2 separate regions of the Homo sapiens genome follow, and region 1 is linked to region 2. The links come from fine-mapping of genetic effects on gene expression. A gene starts in region 2. The other region holds a variant in brackets. All regions are shown on one strand. Distances are between the middles of the regions.

Region 1 (10,840 bases), 42 kb after region 2:
ATAAAAGTTTCATCTGGAACCTTGGGCGTGATGTGATTGTGCTAACGTAGTCTTTATCTAGGTTTGTTTATTAATTTCTAGGCAGGAAGACCAACTGCATCCATTGTACACTCTTCCAGCGGAGACATTTGGACCTTGTTGGGAACAGTGCTTTATCCATTCCTTGCCATCTGGAGATTAATTAGCAATTTCTTGTTTAGTAATCCGCCTCCCACACAGACTTCAGTGAGAGTAACATCGTCAGAACCCCCAAACCCTGCATCATCTAGCAAATCAGAAAAAAGGTATCTGTGTGTGTTTTCCCCATTTATAAAATATGTAAGTCATGCCCAGTATCTTTTTTAAGTAAAAAGTTGAGTACTTTGCCTTTCTGTATATGTCCTCTCCAGTTCCCACGGTGGAGGAGAAAAACTCCGATGCTCTGAAACTTTATTACATCATCTCTACTGCAGAGCTCACTACCTGCGTTTTCTCAGCCAGCTTTATAAAACCAATTTTTTGGAAAGCAGCTTCACCTCTACTGGTTTATTGTTTCATTCATTGAAGTTTCTTTACCCCATAACTATCAAGGCAGATTTTTTTTTCTAGTAACCTCTTTCTTGCTAACCATGTTTGCTTGACAAGATAGTTCATTGCATTAATCGTTCAGGGTCATCTTGCATAATTACTGTAGGTGAACTACTCTGTTTTGATCATTTTAACCCTGTTGGTTCTTTTATCTACCGGCTGACAGCCTTGTCTGGATCATTCAGAGAAGGACCAAATTGTGGAAACAGGTTATTGCTTTGAAAATTCTCTCTCAGAGAATTATTTTGGACTAATCCCTTAACCAAGAGACCAGGGCCTGATGCAGTGGCTCACGCCTGTAATCCCAGCACTTTGGGAGGCTGAGGCGAGAGAATTACTTGAGCTTATGCATTCAAGACTAGCCTGGGCAATATAGTGAGACCTTGTCTGTACAAAAACAATTTAAAAATTTGCCAGGCACATGTCTGTGGTCCCAGCTACTTGGGAGGCTGAGATGGGAAGATCACTTGAGCCCGGGAGATTGAGGCTGCAGTGAGCCAAGATTGTGCCATTGCACTCCAGCCTGGGTGACAGAGTAAGAGTGAGATCCTGTCTCAAAACAAAAACAAAACAACTTTTATAGCAGATAGCATGCAATGGTTAGCATAGTAATACAACACTGACAATTTTAACTCCTATCTTTGTTAAGATTTTATATACTTGAAACAGGTTAATGGGAAGTATTTTCCTAGAAAGTAAGTTTATGCCCCTTTCTAATAATTACATAATAATGTAACTTACTGAAATGGACACCGCTGTTAAGCACTCTATGAGGCCTTTTATAGGCATTATAACAAATCTTCATGCCAGTCCTATGTGATAAGTAATAGAAATTCTTTTTTCTCTGCCCTCAGTATGGAGAAGCCCTAGTCATGTGTTTATGGATTCCATAGGTAATGACATATAAGTATTGTGATTGGGCTGCTTTGTCCTTTATCTTATTTCATAACTGTTAGGCAGGAAGACCAGTTACCTACTAAGTACGTTACTGTAGTGAGGACAGAGGGAAGCTCAAACAAGGCTGAATCTTAAAACTCTTACTGAGCAATGGGTGGGAGCATTTAATACTGAATTACTGTAATATAGGAGAGCTCGTTGTATGGATTTTTAAAACTTTTTTCAGGCTGGGTGTGGTACCTCATACTTGTAATCCCAGCTCTTTGGGAAGCTGAGGTGCAAGGATCACTTGAGGCCAGAAGTTTGAGACCAGCCTGGGCAACATAGTGAGGCTCCATCTCTACAAAAAAAACTTTTAGTGAGCTGTGTGTGATAGCGTGTGCCTATAGTTTCAGCTGCCTGGGAAGCTGGGGCAGGAGGATTGTGTGAGCTCCAGAGTTTTGAGGCTGTAGTGAACCGTGATCGTGCCACTGCACTCTAGCCTGGGCAACAGAGGGGACACCCTGTCTCAAAAAAGAACAAAAAACAACACTTTTTTCAAATAAGAGAAAGGTCTTAGATTAGAGCAAAGGATGGAATAAAAGGTGTGTCAAAGAGAGGGTGAAGCTTTGTGTTCCACCATTATTTTTCCTTTTTTCTCTCCCCTCTAGAGTTATAAAAGTCTGTTGGCTTAAATTTTATCCTTATACCTTTGTATTTTCAGAATAGGAAGTCCTCTTCATTCTTAATTGTTTATAAATAAGTCATTCTTGAAGATTTTGCGAAGGATTTAAAATTGACCCTTTCTGTCAAGCTGACTGGAGCTTTGGATAGTCTCTAGGGTGCTAAGTTACAAATGTTTTAGTAGATAATGTCGGCTTGCATAAATAACAAAGGAAAGATTAGTTGGCAAATGGTCACACTCCTCTAATGCTTATTAAGTCACTAAGAAACACAATGGAAATGGAATATATGATTTGGCTGGCTGGCTTGACTTAGAGATCAGATGAAGCTAAACTACCAAAGACTGCTAAAGTCTAGTACTGTGTTAGTAGATATAATGGTCTCCCATGGACTTTCCTTACTTTAGATGGCATTAAAAGTAAAACTTAGTTGCCTGTACTGATGGAAGTTGGAAACAGCTTGTATTACTATTGTTTTTATTTTATGACATCTTCCCCTTGCTCCCTCTTTTTCGTATCAGGGAACCAGTGAGAAAAAGAGTGCTGGAAAAACGTGGAGACGACTTTAAAAAGGAGGGGAAAATTTATAGATTAAGGACTCAAGATGATGGTGAAGATGAAAACAACACTTGGAATGGAAATTCCACTCAACAGATGTAGTGTGACAAGTATAATATGTGCAATAATCATTGTTTCTCTTATGATTTAATTCAACTAAAATTCTACTGGAGAAGTGGGACTGCTTTATATTTTCCAACTGGTCTATAAAATGTCTCTTTATTCCTGCTTAGTGGGTGTGGGTTGAAGGTGTTTAACTCAGAAAAGTAAAGACAGGAAATAACTCTCTGCTAGGTCCTTGCTTATATGGCAACCACTGCTAGAACCCTAAAAGAACCAAAAATCTGCCACAGCCTGCCTCCATCAGCTTCTTATTTAGTATTTCATATGCCCATTAGCCCTATGCTTCAGATGACACGTTTTGTTTAGAGCTACTTTGCTCCAAGACTCTTAAGCCCAAAGTAACTGGTATGTCACTGAGTAACTTGACTCGGTGTCAGAGCATTTTAACTAGCCACTCAGATGAGAATTTATGTTTAACTTCTCTTTTTACTCATCAGCTGCAAGCAAAATCTTGTAGTTTTTAATCTTAAACACTGAATAAAAAAACTTTCCCCTAAATTGGAATGATCTTAGTTTTGCTTTGAGTTTTGTTATCTAGCATCTTTTTGTTGCACAGGGCTCTATTGAGGTCCTATGTCTCTGATTTTTTTTTTTCCCCAGTATTGCCCTGGAGCTGTCTCTGGAAAGTAGCTGGCGAGGTTACCTTAACTATCACTGAAGAAAGAAATTTTCTGACACACTGATGGCATGTGACTTGTCTCCTAAGTCAGTGAGGCATCACTTTGTTTGCATAAAGTATACGGTTTGTTAAGGCCTTTGTTCTTGTGAGATGCAAAACAGCTGCTAGTCTGCAACCTAGTTTTCCCTCTCACCTTTAACTGACGTTTTGTCCTCAATAATTACACAAGGACCTAGAGTACCTATAGGACAAAAAGTATAGAATAAAAATATGCCTTTAGTCATTTGGTTTTTCTTAAAAAGTTGAGATTCTTAATCTGACTTACATGTTACTTTATCCGTATGTCTTTGTTAGTGGAGACCGCTAAACTAATGATGTTTGAAAACAGTTCCTCTGTTTTAGATTGGAAGATAGCACTCTAGAGTGGACATACGGAAAGACTGTGACTTTATTTTGTAATGGGAGGAAGAAATTTTCTCAGAGCAAACTTTCTATTTTTTACCTGTGAAATAACAGTGACTTTTTAAAATGGTGACAGTGTTGGCAAGGAAACAGCAACACAGGCTGCGCTGTTGGTAGGAGTGAAAACCAGTATAATTCTTCTGAAAAACATTTATCAGAAACTTAAAATATTTCATACCGTTTGATCCAGTAGCTTCTTCTAAATCATAAATGCAGACAATGTTTAGGTAAAGACATACTCATTAAGTGTTATTTATTTTACTCAAGAACTGGAAACCAACTAAATGCCTTCTATAGAAGTAATTTTTGATGAGGAGAAATGGTACAATACTAATTAACAACTTGGTTTAACATGTTTACTGAGCATCTGTTAAGTGTTGGGGGAAAAAGCAGCAGGATCCAGAGCTATAGGTACAGTGTGATCTCAGCTTTGCAAACACATTTTCTACATAGATAGTACTAGGTATTAATAGATATGTAAAGAAAGAAATCACACCATTAATAATGGTAAGATTGGTTTATGTGATTTTAGTGGTATTTTTGGCACCCTTATATATGTTTTCCAAACTTTCAGCAGTGATATTATTTCCATAACTTAAAAAGTGAGTTTGAAAAAGAAAATCTCCAGCAAGCATCTCATTTAAATAAAGGTTTGTCATCTTTAAAAATACAGCAATATGTGACTTTTTAAAAAAGCTGTCAAATAGGTGTGACCCTACTAATAATTATTAGAAATACATTTAAAAACATCGAGTACCTCAAGTCAGTTTGCCTTGAAAAATATCAAATATAACTCTTAGAGAAATGTACATAAAAGAATGCTTCGTAATTTTGGAGTAGGAGGTTCCCTCCTCAATTTTGTATTTTTAAAAGTACATGGTAAAAAAAAAAATTCACAACAGTATATAAGGCTGTAAAATGAGAATTCTGCCCCCTCACCTCTTACCCCAGTACTATTCTCCAGAGGTAATCTATTAACAATTTCTTATGTAATTTTCAGAAAATTTGTATGCGTATATAAGCAAATATGTAATCTTTATTTTTTAAATAAATGGGATCATATTATATATTCTACCTTGCATCTTGCTTTTTTGCTTACATAGTCTTGAGATCTTTTCCTGTCGACACTGAGCTACCTCATTTTTAATGGTTGCATAGCATTCTGCTTGATGAATGTACTGCATTCAGCTTACTGTCCATGCTCTGGTGGCAGTCAGTGGTTATTACACAATTTTGTTTTTCTATTACAAACATTGCCATCGTAAGCAACCTTCAGTGGGAGGTATAGTCTTACTGTGAAAATATACCTGTAGAATATGTTTGTATAACTTGCTAAGTGAAAGAAGAGTGTTTGCAGTTTGGATTGTGAAAGATGCTGTTGCATTGCCTCCTCTACAAGCTGTGTGAATTTGAACCCCTACCAACAGTCATGAGAATGTCCATTTTCCCACACCCTTGCCAACACTGTATTATCATACTTTCTTAGCTTTGTCAAAATGATGGATGAAAAATGATACAATCTCGTATGCATTGTATTTATCATGAATGAAGTGAGCATCTTGATGTTATTGATCAGTTTGGCTTATCGTGAGAGCTCCGTGTATTCCTTGCCAATTTTTGTTTTCATATTTTTCTTACTGATTTATAAGACTACTGTGTACATTACAGCCATTTGCTAGCATATGCAGTGAATATTTTCTCTTTTTTTTTTTTTTTTTTTTTTTTTTTTTTTTGAGACGGAGTCTCCCGCTTGCCCAGGCTGGAGTGCAGTGGTGCAATCTCGGCTCACTACAAGCTCTGCCTCCTGGGTTCACACCATTCTCCTGCCTCAGCCTCCCGAGTAGCTGGGACTACAGGTGCCCACCACCACAGCTGGCTAATTTTTGTATTTTGTTTAGCAGAGACAGGGTTTCACCGTGTTAGCCAGGATGGTCTTGATCTCCTGACCTCGTGATCCGCCTGCCTCGGCCTCCCAAAGTGTTGGGATTACAGGCGTGAGCCACCGCGCCTGGCTTCTCCCTCCCTTTTGTTGAGTATATTTGGTAATTTTTTCCACAGTATTATCTGTGTTTTCCTTTATGACCTCCAGGTCTTGAGTCTTGCTTATAAATACCTTTCCCACTTCAAAAATTAATTTTTTTATATCCTAGGATTCTTATGGTTTCCTTTTTGTATGTTTAAATCTGGTATCCAAGGAAAGGACCTGGCTCCTTCCCATGCCCGTGGCTAACATCCCCAGGAGCCTGTTCCCTCACTGCCTTCATGGGCCCTCTGCCCCGAGTAGGCGCACTGCCTGCGAGGTGGGCATCTGTTCCATGTGCAGATGCTTCTGTGTCTAGGCTTTCTCTTCCTTTATTGATCTGTTTGCTCTCTGCTATACCAAACTAAGCTAGCTTTATAATGTGTTTTAATCTTCTTCCCCCAGATTTATCCTGGCTCTTCTTACAAGTTTATTTCATATATGAAACTTCTTTATATTATTTTGTTAGTGTTGTCCCAAAAAAGTGATGTTGAGTTTTGAGATTATTTAGGTATAATTGGCACCTTATGATACTGAGTTTCTCCCCAAAGAATGT[C/CT]TTTTTTTTTTTTTTTTTTGAGACAGTCTCACTCAGTCGCCCAGGCTGGAGTGCAGTGGTGCGATCTCAGCTCACTGCAAGCTCCGCCTCCCAGGTTCACACCATTCTCCTGCCTCAGCCTCCTGAGTAGCTGGGACTACAGGCACCCGCCACCACGCCTGGCTAATTTTTTGTATTTTTAGTAGAGATGGGGTTTCACCATGTTAGCCAGGATGGTCTCGATCTCCTGACCTCGTGATCTGCCCACCTCAGCCTCCCAAAGTGCTGGGATTACAGGTGTGCGCCACCGTGCCCGGCCAACAAATGTCTTTAATATCAATTTTAGAACCACCCCCACCCCCATCTGACAAACTTTTCCAGTCGATTGATGGAGAAAAATGCTTGTGCACCACAAGCTCCTGACTGCCAGGTTGGGACTCATGGCGTTGGAATGTTTTGATAGGGAAAGGAATGCTTACAAGAAGCAAATTTCAAGTGTGATCATCCTTTTAAGACCAGCCCAAAATTACTCTGTTGTTACAAAACATTTTCCCAGCTATCTAGATGTAATATATGGGCCAATCAAGTGTTTAGGTGTTTCACACTGAGATTGTCTCTCAGCACATTTGAGGGGATTATAAAGAACATATCTCTGCTCCCACCACTGCCCTGGAAATGCTATGTGAATGGGTGAACACACGAAAGGAGCATTTGTGCTTTTCATTGCTCTCTCCAAGTTGTGCTTGCCAGAGACAATGAGACATGGTCCTTGGCCTTAAGAAGCTGATGATAGAGAAATACGCAATTCCAGTATAGAAACTGGATGGTCAAGTTGTAATAGGGGATATTTACAAGCAAAGCAGACGAAGGAGAATCTGCCTGGGGATTTCAGGGAAGCCATTCAGAGGAGGAAGTACATTATTTCAGCTGAGACTTAAAGGCATTTTCAGAAGAAAGGGCATCCTAGGTGGAAGGAGTAGCATTTGGGAAGACACAAAGGAATATGGATAGTTGTCCTATGTGCCGTTTAGAACTACCACAAATTGGGAAAGGAGGAAGGAAACAGACTAAATGAACCAAGGTCAGATGGGAGAGCTGGGGATGGCATAAAAAGTGGCAGTGGGGGTGTTCGAGGGGTGGGAAAAGGCCACTTTCTGCATGTTGTGGTATTTGCCCCAAGGAATATAATGTCAACAGAAAGACTTGGTCTGGTGAGAAAGCTTAATCGGAGCTCCAGATGGCTTGTGTGACTTCATAACTTCTCTTGAACCTACTTTCTCAAGGAGGGGCAACCATAGGAGAAAGGACAGTCTGCTGTTTTTATTTTCTGGAAAACACAAGATGTGAAGCTAGGGAGAGCTTGCAGAAGGGCAGGAGATGATATTGCAGTCTATGCAATGGAGTTGATTTCTTCTTATAGGAAGGATTTTTACGGTTTTTGCTCCCTTAACAACCCTTAACAACTCTGAAACTTAAAACAGCCCTGTTAAGTTCAATTAAGTGGTTCACAGACCCACTAGACCAGTATCTACACGTTTCCGCAAGAGCTACTTGCTTCTCAAATGCCCAAATGAACTCTGATACTGGAGCAAGATGGAGATATTTCCATTTTACTCAGCAAGTCGAAATCATTCAAGATTAAAGTCATCTCTAACGGTGCAGCAGGACTTTATGGAGAAGTCCAGTATCAGCAGAGTCTAAGACCCTAAGGTGTTTGGTGGCCGGTAAACATAGATGAAGAAACTAGGCCTGCTTCATAGAACTTGAGGTGGTAACTCATCAGAATGAAGACACCGGGCTCAATTCCTGTTGGCTTCGTTGTGTTTTCCCTTGCTTAGAGCGCTTGCAGTACTTGTATGACAGAAATGCCAAGCCACAGACTCCAAGAAGCACAAGAGAAAAGAGAACGTACAAAGCTGTCTGTGCTTCTGTGGTGCCGAGCATTAGCCCCAGGAACTGCACCTCCTCCTGTCTCACGGGGCTGATGGTGGGTCCAGCATCTAGGAGAGTGTGACACAGGGTGGTTGGTGCTCTGGCGCTGATTTGAGTTCTCAGATCTCTGAGACCCCAGCAGAGGCTGCACGGTACCCCAAATCCGCACAGCCATTGACGGGATGCCGAGGTGGAGGTACCCATCCCCTTTCACTGTGTGTCAGGAGCCTCTGAGTGAAGTTAAGCAGTTGTATTTTTTAAACATCTCTATCAGCAATTAGAATACGGTTGAATATCCCTTATCTGACATGCTTGCTTGGGATCAGAAGTGTTTCAGATTTGGGATTTTTTAAGATTTTGGAATATTTGCATATACATAATGAGATATTTTGGGGATGGGACCCAGGTCTAAATATGAAATTCATATATGTTTTATATGCAACTTATCCACGTGGTGTGAAGGTAATTCTATACAATATGTTAAATAATTGTGTGCATGAAACAAAGCTTTAACTGTGTTTTGACTGCGACCTGTCACATGGGGTCAGGTGTTGAATTTTCCATTTGTGTTGTCATGCCAGTCATGCTCAAAAAGTTTCAGATTTTGGAGTATTTTGGATTTTGAATTTTCAGATGAAGGATTCTCAGCCTGTATAATTGAAACTGGATAATTGTCATTTACATTTGTGTAGTGATTTATACTCTTACATTTAACAAATACGGGGCACCCACATGGTGCAGGCATTGTACTTTCATGGTCCCTTTATTTGATCCTTATAACTGCCCTGAAGCATGTGCCTGGTTTCTTATCTATGAGTGCACAGCAAGTTAGTGGTAGGGCTGGAAGAAGAGTCTAGACCTGCTTATTCCCAGGTCAGGGCTCTGGTTTCTAGGTGTAACATTGACCCTAAGTGTCCTTTGTTCCACCCCAGGAAATGTCTGGAGCATTCAAAGAAAATAAACATTTGTTGAATGAATGAAGGAGATGGGGCAGCAGAGAGGAGGGTAATAAACTAGAAGAAAACAGACTGAGAGAGGCCCTTCCACCTGCCCTTCACCCTTAGGCTTTATTCCCTCCCAGAGCCACATCTCACCTGGCTGGTGGAGACAAGCGTGAGGCCCTGTAGCGGGGTCAGGGAAGCCATTGCATCGGACCACAGAGGCGTAGAACTTCGCTGATGCTTTGGGGATCCTTGGCAGAGAAGGGTCACTGTAGTTCACAAAATGCAGACCAAATCTCTCTGAAAAGCCTGTGGCCCACTCAAAATTGTCCATCGCACTCCAAACTGTGTATCCTCGAAGGTCCACCTTGTCCTGCACAGCTGCTCAAACACAGAGGACTAGGCATAAGTTTCCTATCTCATAAGGCAGCTTCCTGCCAGGCCTTCGGAAGCCAGGTCTGCCTACTGCTCTCCCCACCGCCTTCACAGATGGCGGTAAGCTTTGGCTTTAGCTCTGTGAGAAAGCTGCCCCTTTCTTTGCATGCAGTGACTGTTAGCGGGTCCTCTGTGGATGGAGATGTAGAGCCACCAGCATCTTTAGAAAGGCTCAGCCCTGAATGGGAGTCGGGAACATGGGTGGACTAATTTCCCTGGGTCACCTACACTTCTATCCATGATCTTGGTCAGTGCCTTAGAATGTTAATGCTTCTCCCTGTAGAAAATAGCCCTTAGATAGAATATATTTCAGCTGGGTAGGATTTTTCTAATCATTTCCTTTGCTGGTGCATTGCTTGCTCTTTTACTCAGCATTTGTTCCATTCTCTTATCCTCATGGTCCCATCTCAAGTTGTTAGGGCTGAGCCAAGAGCCTCAAACTTTTGCTCGGAGACTAAGAGACCCTACAGGCAACCACACAGCCTACTCCTCCTGGGCCCTACCCAGACCATTCTCAGGAGGGCACTGCTGTTCCGACATCAGGGAGGATCAAGGGGAGCAAGTGACTCAGGCCAGGAACTAGGGTTTGGTGGCATCAGGCCACTGGGCTTGCTTGCTGAGCTTAGACATAGGAAGGAAAAAAACTCAGAGTGCGGCCCTAAAGCAAAGCTTAACCCCCACAGGAGCAAGAAGGCTTATCGTTCTCTTCTTACTGTGGCCCAAGGACGCTGTATCACACTCCTGCAAATAGCAGATGTTTCCAACAGGGGAAGGTGCACGCTGGGGAAGGGCGGGCCCGTCGTACCTTTGAGGGCCTCATTGATGTAAGTCCGAAGGTAGTAGATCCTTGCAGTGTCATTGAGGTCTGTTTCTTCCCGCTGGGACACTCCATTCTCTGTGACATAAATTGGAGGGTCATTGTATTCCTCCTTTAACCAGTTCAGGATCCTCCTGAAGCCAAAAGGCGTCATCTTCAGCCAGAAGGAGCCAGAGTCTGGCCACGAGCGATCTGCGATGGAAGCAACTCCTCTACAAGTTCAAAAACTAAAGATGAGGTCTTGTTTTGTAAATCTCAAGAGGCCCTTTACA
Region 2 (10,722 bases):
AGCTACTGCACCCAGCAGTTTTGCCTCTCAGTAGAAAGTGAATTCTGTCAGGAAGGAATAATAGAAGGCATGGTAGAAGAATGACTGCTGGATCGGCCATCAACAGAATGTGCTGTATACCCCATTTTCCCTCCCATCTCCAGAGGGGCCTTCCATTTTCCCATTTGTTCAATCTAAGACCAGTTCCTTTCCACTAGCATTTAATTTTATGCAAATCTCTCCCATCTTTAAAAAGGCTGTCTTTTCAAATCCAAATTCCTGTCCAGCTAATGTTCCTTTCTTCCTTCTCACCTTCACACTCACTGACTCTTTACCTCCCCTTACTTTTCAACCTTTTGCCATCTGGCTTCTGTACACAAGAACCATGAGAATTGCTCTTGCTAAGCTTAAAATGACCTCTGTGTTACTAAAAACAATGGACATTTTTTAGTCTCTCATCTTAATTGACCCAACAGCAGCATTCCACACCACTGCTTCTCCTTTCTTAAAATTCTCTCTACCCTTGGCTTCTTTGATATCACACACTCTCCCATTTTCTTCCACCACCCCACACTCTGCCTTTCCTGCTGAGTCTCTTTTACTGGTTTATACTTTTTAATACAACCCTATAAACGTTGGAGGCCCTAAGACCTCAATCATGCTCGTGTCTCACCTCACTTTGCACCATCTCCCTAAGTGATGGTATCGTTATCTTCCAGTGCCTCATTGATCCCCTGTATGTAGATAAATCTCACTTTCCTATCTCTAGTTAAGAACTGTTATCTGAGCTCCAAGACTAATAGCTATCTGCCTACTTAACACTGCATGTGAATATCTCTCTAGTACTCCAAACACATGTTTAATATTGAACTCACACCTTCATGAACAACCTCCCCACCATCCTTCACTTCTTTCAGTGTTGCCTATCTCAGTACCATCTTCTTTACGATTTTGCAAGGCAGATACCCCAAATCTCTCTCTCTCTCTTTTTTTTTAGAGACAGGGTCTTGCTCTGTCGCCCAAGCTGGAGTGCAGTGGTGCAGTCATGGCTCGGTGCAGTCATGGCTCACTGCAGCCTCAAACTCCTGGGTTCAAGTGATCCTCCTGCCTTGGCCTCCCAAAGTGCTTGGATTACAGGCATGAGCTAACACACCTGGCCACAAAATCCCTTCTTGAGTCCTTCTTCCTCAACCTCCACATGTAATCAACAAAATATATTGGGTCTGTCTCCAGAATATCAAAAGCATCCACTTCACTATCTCCCTTATGTTAATACATGAATAAGTACCTCTTACCTGGTCTATTCACATTCAGCCATTCCACTTCAAATCCAATCTATTCAATTGCTATCATACAATTTAAAAATGGAAGTCTTATATGTATCTGTTTATTTATTTATTTTTTGAGATATAGTCTTGCTCTTTCGCCCAGGCTGGTGGGCAGTGGTGCCATCTTGGCTCACTACAACCTCCACCTCCTAGGTTCAAGCGATTCTCCTGCCTCAGCCTCCTGAGTAGCTGGGATTACAGGCATGTGCAATCACGCCCAGCTAATTTTTGTATTTTTAGTAGAGATGGGGTTTCACCACGTTGGTCAGGCTGGTCTTGAACTGCTGACCTCATGATCTGCCCGCCTCGGCCTCCCAAAGTGCTGGGATTACAGGCATGAGCCATTGTGCCTGGCCAACTCTTCTGTTTAAAATTTTTCAATGGCTCCCTGTAATCCTTAGAAAAATGTCTTAAAATTTTTAACATGATTTTCAAGACTCTGTATCATCTGATCCTTGCCTAGCTTTCCAGCCTCACTTGTACCACACTCCTCTTTCTATGTTATAGCCACACTGGGCATTTTTTAGTTCTGCAAGTGCACTGTGTTTGCTTGCTTCAGAGCCTCATGTGGAATAGCCTTCTCCTTCACCTACCTAGAGTTCCCCGACACGTCATTTCCTCATGAAGGCCCTTTCTGACTCCACTAGCCCATGTTCGGTCCCATCCTCATACACTTCTGTAGCACTCTGAATTACCCTTCTGTGACATTTATCATCACTCATAATTACTTATTCAATGTCTGTCTTCCTGACTAGACTGTACAGTCACAAAGACAGGGCCTTCTTCTGACTGCCTCACCTCCTTATCAGTGCCAGGCACAATGCCTAGCTCATAAAAGATGAGTGATAAACACTTGACAAATGAATATAAAACTATGAAGGATTCTTATTTAATTCTAAAATTAGAGATAATTAAAGACATAGCTCTATTGGAATAATTTCTAGATTGATCAAATTTCCAGAAGTCCATTAAAGTTGATGTTAAAGGTCAATTCTAATTTTTCTGTAGGATTGTTGTCCTATAGAAGCAACTGTCCCTAATCAGCATTATGTCTCAGTTTATAATAACACTATATACGAGAGGCCTGATTGGGAAAAAAAGTACAAAAATCGGAGTGCAAATAATTAGCTATTTTTAGGGAAAATATCTGTAGGAAAGGTGGTATATTCAGATGTATCACTTCCTTTATCTTGCAAAGATTGTCAGATAGATGTACTGCTGGAGGATAAATTTAATTGATGTAGAATTTAACATAATAGTATATGCAACTTTAAATAAACCATGCAAGCCTTTAGCTAATAGTTATTACAGACCATGTGATTTCATGAAAGTATTAAATATGGATCAGTTTTCATTTAATGGCAGCCAATCACAAAGCGCCACATCTTGATTATAGGACATTCTCCCAGAAAATTGGAAAATAAATCACTATCTAGTCTCTTTTGTATTACCATGGAAAGTAGCTGGAAAAGAAATAATCTATTCTCTGCTTTGTGTTACTTTAAAAAGTAGCTGTGGCAATAGCCTAACGCGTTTTGAAGTTTTGAAATGATCTCTATCCAGTGTCTAGGAAATTGCTGAAGGCCTGCGTTCTACCAATTCCTCCGCTTAGGCACATGGACTACAGGTTATTAAAGAAGGTGACTTGCGGTTTTTATCCCGTTTTTCTGCAAGGTTGGGCTACGTTCAGAAGAAATCAAAGCCTCGGAGTTAATCCCGACAAAGCCCATTTAGTTCCATGCGAGGACTATTTCCTCCACACTGAGAGTCTCAACGAGGCCGAGAATAGCATATGCCAGTTGGAGTGACACTTATTTCTCCCTCTCCCCTTTATAGAATGTGTAGTGGCCCTCACTACTGCCCCCTTTAGCTGTGCCTCAGAACCCACAGTTACATGCTCCACAATATGGAGGCGAATAAGCCTAAGTGGACTACAATTCCCATCATGCCTCACTGCAGGCGCCGCCGACGTGTCTTAGCGGTTAGTCATCCCTCTTACCGCTTTCCTCCACTTCCTGGACTGCGCGACCGGAGGCCTAGCGGGCGCGCGCCCGCACCATCGACTCGCCAACGAGAGAAGGTCCTGGGGCACGGACACCGACGGGTTGCGACTGTGACGTGAGGTGTTCTCGCGCGCGCTAGCGCGCGTCTCCGGGTGCCGCTGACGGGCGTGCGCGCTTGTGCGGAGCCGGAGGTGGGGGCCGAACCAGCCAAGGTTGCGGGGGCCGCAGAGCCGGACGAAGACGGAGGGCGGAGCCGGCTTCGGGACTGCGGAGACTACACACCGAGCGAGCGCCTGGGCCCGAAGGGAGCGATGCTGTGGTTCCAGGGCGCCATTCCGGCCGCCATCGCGACGGCCAAAAGGAGCGGCGCGGTCTTCGTGGTGTTCGTGGCAGGTGAAGGAGGCAGGGGTTCGAGAGGCGGCCGGGACACCCCTCCGGCCTACCTTCATCCTCTTGTATACCTCAGCCGCCGGCCCGCCCTCCCCGAGACGCGGGCTCCTGTCGGCTCGCACAATTGCCACTACTACCCCGCGCCCCAGGGACGGCTGCGACTCCGCCGCCAGATCCCCCAGAGGGGCCATGCAGACCCTCAGCGCCCTGCTCCTTCAGGCCCCGGGCGCCCCCAGCCTTTCCTCAGTGTCTGCGAGGCCCGGGCTGCCGGCCCGTGGCTGTTCAGCGCCTCCCCGGTTCGTTTGAGATACAGTGGGCCTGGCCCCACCGCTGCGTCTCCCGGCAGCCGGGCCGGAGGCACCGTCTGGCCCTGGTCTCCAAAGCGCCCCGAGGCCCGCCGAAATCTCCCCGCTCGGGGCGACGGACGCGGCCAGCAGGCCCCAGCCGCCCAGCCCCGCTCGTCGCCCCGAGCCTCTCCCCTGCGCAGCCAGACCCCCGCGACCCTCTCCCTGACGTCCCTCTCTGTCACCAAGGACCCTCTTTGTGCTGCTTGAACGCCCGTTTCGTTACTGCTGTTTAGATGGAGGTAGGAACGGGCCATTAGGCAAGCAGTTGGGTTGTAATTAGTTGTGGACTGTCGGGAAGAAAGCTGTGTCATCGATAAGCAACAAAGAGAAACCACCTGATGTTCACGGTTACTGGTGTTAGTACGTTCCTGAAACGTAAACTTTTGAGCTGAATAGAGGTTTAATTTTTCTTTATGGCAGTCTTGGTAGGGGATCTAGTGTGAAATAATGTAAGTTTAAAAAAAATCCATTAGTTTCAAAGAAAATAGACGTTCAGTCCTTGGTTTCTTCCCTTTGTTGTCTTCTTAGGCTAAAATCTACACGACTTTGAGAACGTTTATTAACTCATATATTCTCTGTTGCTCTAGGCTATTTTGCTCCATATTCTCCTGTTTTATTACTGAAATCTTGTAGATTTACAGTGAACTCCCTGCCTCTACGGTTCTGCTCATACTCATTACATGGACCAAATCAATGTTTGTGGCTGTTGTTAATTTGAGGTGTATTTCTTCAACTATTTGTGTTTAATAACGGTTTATTCATAATTAACTCGTCTTTTAATAGCTCTATAACTTTATGCACTGCAGTGAAGAACGAATTACTGAAATGTGAATGTCATTTAGCATTAAATTTGGAATTTATAATTGTTTTGTTACGCCAAGTTTTTAGCTCAATGCTGTTTATTAGAAGAGCTTGAATAGTTTAGATTCTGTGATGCTGTCTGGGGGTTATATTATACTTTACATAAATTAATTCTGTAATCCCGTAAGGAAAAAAATGGATTGAAAATGAAAGGAAAAGTAAATGACACTATGCTTATTGTGTACATTAGTAGGTTTTTGACATTTTAAATTGTTTTTCTCCTAATATCTCAGTTGATCCTTGCAGTAAATAGAACAGGTTTAATTATCCCCATTTTATAGATGAGGCACTTAGGTCAGCAGTCATAAAGTGACTTGCACTAGGGCCACAAAAAGGATTTACATGTCTTAACAGTCAAATTTTTTAGTAGCTTCAAAAAAACTGGCTTTTTTGTTTCTTAAGGAAAAAACTGAACAATTTGTAAATTGGTGATTTAAATTGGTATAGAAATCAGAAATTTGGATTATGGTAGTCATGTTTTTGAACAAATGTCCAAACATTCCTAGAAGGCACTCTTGAGGTAAATCAGTTAATTTAAAAAAAGAAACGAGAGATTTTTATTAACAAATATTAATATTTGGAAACTCTAGTACAAATTATTGGAATAGTTAAATAAAGTTATAGGTCTTGCCTTTCGGGGTTTTGTGTATATATATATACTTTCTTCAATTAAGTTTTTACTGATGAGCATGTATTACATGTATTTAGAATATAATGACTCTTGAATGTTTGCAGGAAGACTGTTAGCAATCTCACAAAGGAGTCTCTGTCTGTCCCTTGACCTGTTCCAAAATCCAGCTAGCTTTTTTAGAGCTTTAGCCAGTTAATCCCCAAGACTAAGTAGGATTAGTGTCACTCTAGGAGTATGTAGATACTGGACTCATGAAACCAAAACACTTACAGATTGCTTAGAGCTTTCTTCATAACTCTGAAGTCAGAACTTGTGATTTTCTTAGGTCTAAGATCTCAGTAATAATATACCAACTTAATGGAAAATTTGAAAGATGTCTTTATAGTTGGAAGACGTGATCTCAAGAGTACACTTTGGTTCATAGAACTGTTCAAGTGGGAAACGTTTTAGGCAAGTGGTCTTTAGTTAGTGACATTTTCATGGATGAATTAAAGAATATTGTAGAGTTGATGTTAGGAGACGAGAGATTACTACTACTTCAGCTAACAAATTAATATGATTTTCAAAGTATTGTGGCTGTGTAAAGTAAGTGAAACAAAACGATATTCATTTAATACTTGGGAAGGTAGAATAATCTGACGAGACTGAAGTAAAGGTATCTGTTCACTGGCTAATGTTGCTAGGTAGGTAGGCCAAACTTTGTTAATGATAGACGCCATTTTCTGCCTTTTTTGGTGAATGTAGACCACAGAAGCCTTTAGGTTTTGAGCAGTTGAGATTTATTTTACATCGGAAAGACTGGCTGTATGAGGGTCTGCAACTCTTTGCTTCTGAGTTCGTGTTGCTCTCTTTAAGTGCCTTCGCTTAGGATACTGCCGATACAAAGGATATGCTGTTTTCTCCTAAAATCTTAGGCCCACCTAACTTTATAGTTGATAATTTGATTAAAAATAAGAAATGAAAGATACCAGAGTTAGCAATCAGTCATCCCACTCAGTAGTATTAGGAAAGTTGTCATTAAGCATTGAGTAATTCCATTCAGCTTTCCACCACTGCTGTTCAAGCAGCTGCTGCCACCACTAGGCTGAGTCTAGGACAGACACTGCCAGTAGGGTTGAGACATCTGGGACCCTAATCACATGGTACAGTATAGGTGAGGGAGTGATGCACCAGCCTCACAAGAAGCAAGATTTATACTTTCAGCTACTTACGTGATATCACTGTTTAGATCCTCCCAGGATTCTCAAGCCTAAACGTGTAAGTGCTGCCTAAACCTGTGTTTCTCCCAGTGTTCTGCATCTGATTGGCACTACCATACATCTGGTTGGATAAACCATAAATATGAGAGTCATCTTTGACTCTTAACTCTTCAGTCTCTTCTTGAGCTCCGGATTGTTCACAACATTCCAAATCACATAGGCCTTTCCCTACACACGTATTCCTTCTGCGTGGTGAACTCTTCTGGCTGTTGGCATGGCTGAGCTCTCTTATCCTTTAGATTTTAGCTTAACTGTCACCTCAGAGAGGGCTTCTCTGACCATTATAAAGAGTTCTCTTGTTATTTTCTCTCATAGATTTCTTTTTAGTAGCATTTATTACTGTAATTACGTATAGTGTCTATTTGTTTAAAAATTTTGTATACCATTAGATTTTAAGCTCTGTTGAAGGCAGACAATGTCTCATTTGGTTTATATTTAGTATACAGTTCAATGCCTAGAACAAAATAAATGCAATAAAATAGTGAACATATAAAAGAATGAATGGAAAGGATTTCTCATTCTTCACAGCCTTCTCTGAGAAGGGTTCGTAGTAAGAATATTCTCATATACTTATTTTTCTTTGGTAGGTGAGTCATTTATTTGGAATCTTAATCTCTCCTCATCAGATGGTTTCTGAAGATGCATTTAGAGTGATCTCACTTGCAAATAGTAACTTCTCGTTATTTTGCATCTTCAACATCTAGGAGTCTGCTAATGGAGCATTCTTAATGGAGCATTTGGTCTGTGGATGCATTCTAGTCCCGTTTACTTTTTTTTTTTTTTTTTTTTTGAGATGGAGTCTCACTCTGCCGCCAGGCTGGAGTACAGTGGTGCAATCTCGGCTCACTACAACCTCCACTTCCCTGGTTCAAGCGATTCTCCTGCCTCAGCCTCCTGAGTAGCTGGGACTACAGGTGTGTGTCACCACGCACAGCTAATTTTTGTATTTTTAGTAGAGACGGGGTTTCACCGTGTTGGCCGGGATGATCTAGATCTCTTGACCTCGTGATCCGTCCGCCTAAGCCTCACAAAGTGAGCCACCGTGCCCGACCCCGTTTACTTTTCCATGGTCAAATTTCTCAAACTCCTATTTCTGGTATTCCTGAATCTCATCTCACAAAATATATGCAAATAAACAGCATTAGAGTCAATTATTATAGGCATGCCATCATACTTACTATATTAGGCATTTAGCTATTCCACAGAGTACTTATTGGGTGCCTACTATGTTTTGTAGAGATTTTAGTCTTGTCAGTAAATAAAATGGAACCAATCCTTGCCTTCATGGAACCTTCATTCTAGTTAGGGGAGACAGATACTAGTAAACATAATTAAAAATGCATAGTATATTGGAAGGTGAAAGTAATACAGAAAAACAACAGGAGATAAGGGAGCTTTGGGAATGTCTCAAGAGTGTAATTTTAAAGTAAGTGAGTAGGAGAGTTGTAATATTAAAGTGGGTGATTAAGTATCAGCTTTATTGAGCTGATATTTGAGCAAAGTTTTAAGGGAGTTGGAAGTTAACCATGTAGTTATCTGGGGGAAGAACATTCCAGGCAGAGGAAACAACTAGTACAAAGACCTTATGGCTGAAGTGTCTTTCATATTTGAGGAATAGAAGGAAAAAGAATAGCAAGAAAGGAAAAAGGAATGAGGTCACAGAGGTAGTTGGAGTCCTGATGTATGGGGCCTTCAAGCGCCCTGTAAGGACTTTGGCTTTTACTTTGAGGAAAATGGGGAGCCATTGTGTGATCTAAGCAGAGGGTTGATGTGATCTTTTTTTTTTTAGAGAAAGTTGCTGTGTTAAGAATAGACTTAGCAGGAAGACCAATTTGGAGGCTTTTACTAGGCTTCCAGGTGAGATGTGATAGCTTGGATCAGGGTAGTTAGTAGTGGAAGTGGTAAGAAAGTTACATTCTTGATTTATTTTGGAGCTGGAGTCAGTTACAATCAAGGAAAACTAGTTTTTTGGCCTGAGAACTGGAAGGATGGAGTTACCATAAACGAATAACTGCAATGAGGAAGGCCAAAGTGGATTAAATTGTCCTGGCCAACATAGTGAAACCCCATCTCTACTAAAAATACAAAAAAATTAGCTGGGCGTGGTGGCGGGCACCTGTAATTCCAGCTGCTCAGGAGGCTGAGGCAGGAGAATCGCTTGAACCCGGGAGGCAGAGATTGCAATGAGCCAAGATTGCACCATTGCACTACAACCTGAGCGACAAGAGTGAAACTCCATCTCAAAAAAAAAAAAAAAAAAAAAAAAGATACAGAACGTTTTCAGCATTCCAGAAGGCTCCTTCATGCTCTATCAAGGTAGCCACTATACTGAATTCTATCACCATAGATTAGTTATAGGTTAGCATACCTTTTATAATTAGCATACCTACAATAAAAGGCAAGTCTAAAATTGCAAACAGAATTGTACCTGCCTCTGTCTACCTTGGATTAATTTTGGAGTATAAATGCTGTGGAGTGGAGATGTTGAACTCAACAGAAAGGTGCCACATAAAGGACAGATATCAAACTTTTTATTTTTCTCTCTCTCTAGACGGTCTCACTGTGTCACCCAGGCTGGAGTGCAGTGGTGCAATCTCCGCTCACTGCAACTTCCACCTTCCGAGTGCAAGCAATTCTCCTGCCTCAGCCTCCTATGTAGGTGGGATTACAGGCATGCGCCACCACACCTGGCTAAGTAGAGATGGGGTTTTACCGTGTTGGCCAGTCTGGTCTCGAATTCCTGGCCTCAGGTGATCTACCCGCCTCAGCCTCCCAAAGTGCTGAGATTATAGGCGTGAGCCACCGAGCCCAGCCCACAACTTTTATTTTAATAAAATCTTATGTACAAAAGCCCAAATAGGCACTGCACCGATGACTGCTTATTATTGTGGTACTTTGCGCATCATAATTTAGATGGCTTCTTTTATGAAATATTTTGTATCATTTAAATAGTCCAGTGTAGTTTGTTTTCATTGCTCTTCATGATGTGAACTGTGTATGCAGTCACACTTTTCATTTAGTGGAAAATTCAGTTTTCAAATTTGGCAGAAAGTGGTATAGGTGGGATTATATTTTATTTGAGGTTTCCGTTTTCCAGGGGAAAAGAGTTTGCAATCAGCAGATCCCAGCCTGGTATAAGAATTTTTGAAATGTTTTACAGGTGATGATGAACAGTCTACACAGATGGCTGCAAGTTGGGAAGATGATAAAGTTACAGAAGCATCTTCAAACAGTTTTGTTGCTATTAAAATCGATACCAAAAGGTTTGTTTATGTTTTAATATTTTATTAATTTTAAAATTTATAAGTATTGTCTTTGATTTATAGTGATACTCTTGGACTAGAAGAATGTTGATGTTGGGCTGGGCACTCCCAGCACTTTGGGAGACTGAGGTGGGAGGATCGCTTGAGCCCAGGAGTTAGAGGCTAGCCTGGGCAACATAGTGAGACCCTGTCTCTATAAAAAATAATAATAAAATTAGGAGTGTGGTGTGTGCCTTTGGTCCTGCTACTTGGGAGGCTGAGGGGAGGATCACTTGATCCCTGAAGACTGGGGCTACAGTGAGCTGTGATCATGCCACTGCACTCCAGCCTGGGTGACAGAGTCAAACTCTGTCTCAAAAAAAAAAAAAAAAGAATATAGGCCAGGCACAGTGGCTCATGCCTGTAATCCCAGAACTTTGGGAGGCCAAGACAGGCGGATCACTTGAGGTCAGGAGTTTGAGACCAGTCTGGGCAACACAGTGAGACCTTGTCTCTACTAAAAAAAAAAATACAAAAATTAGCCGGGTGTGGTGGCACACGCCTGTAATCCCAGCTACTCGGGGGGCTGAGGTAAGAGGATCACTTGAGCCCAGGAGGTTGAAGTTGAGGCTGCAGTTAGCAGTGACTGCACCACTGCACTATAGCCTGGGCGAGAGAGCAA

Alleles and levels. Positions count from the first base shown, and alleles are read on the strand shown. Sizes are in standard deviations (SD) of each study's normalised expression.
For the expression in monocytes after LPS of the gene that starts at base 3,547 in region 2, allele C in region 1 goes with a higher level than allele CT (moderate effect, 0.66 SD a copy in Quach 2016).

The links.
Region 1: its variant is fine-mapped to the expression of UBXN4 in monocytes after LPS (Quach 2016, PIP 0.95). The same link has a PIP of 0.9 or more in monocytes after R848.

Annotation. Positions count from the first base shown.
Region 1 is chr2:135,780,102-135,790,941 of GRCh38, forward strand. UBXN4 (UBX domain protein 4) reads left to right here. Exons shown (of 13, transcript NM_014607.4): 12 at 82-284; 13 at 2,648-4,955. The coding sequence ends at 2,786. LCT (lactase) reads right to left here. Exons shown (of 17, transcript NM_002299.4): 15 at 10,557-10,780; 16 at 9,470-9,697; 17 at 7,749-8,443. The coding sequence ends at 8,223. Among named protein-coding and RNA genes, the nearest start is that of LCT-AS1, 35 kb to the right of the region's middle. The variant C/CT (reference allele first, on the strand shown) is at 6,465.
Region 2 is chr2:135,738,309-135,749,030 of GRCh38, forward strand. It overlaps UBXN4 (UBX domain protein 4), which reads left to right and starts at 3,547. Exons shown (of 13, transcript NM_014607.4): 1 at 3,547-3,703; 2 at 9,959-10,061. The coding sequence starts at 3,622. It overlaps LOC107985946 (a long non-coding RNA gene), which reads right to left and starts at 4,336. Exons shown (of 1, transcript NR_163478.1): 1 at 2,521-4,336. RefSeq lists enhancers at 3,165-3,294, 3,625-3,684, 4,013-4,788 and a silencer at 4,085-4,134.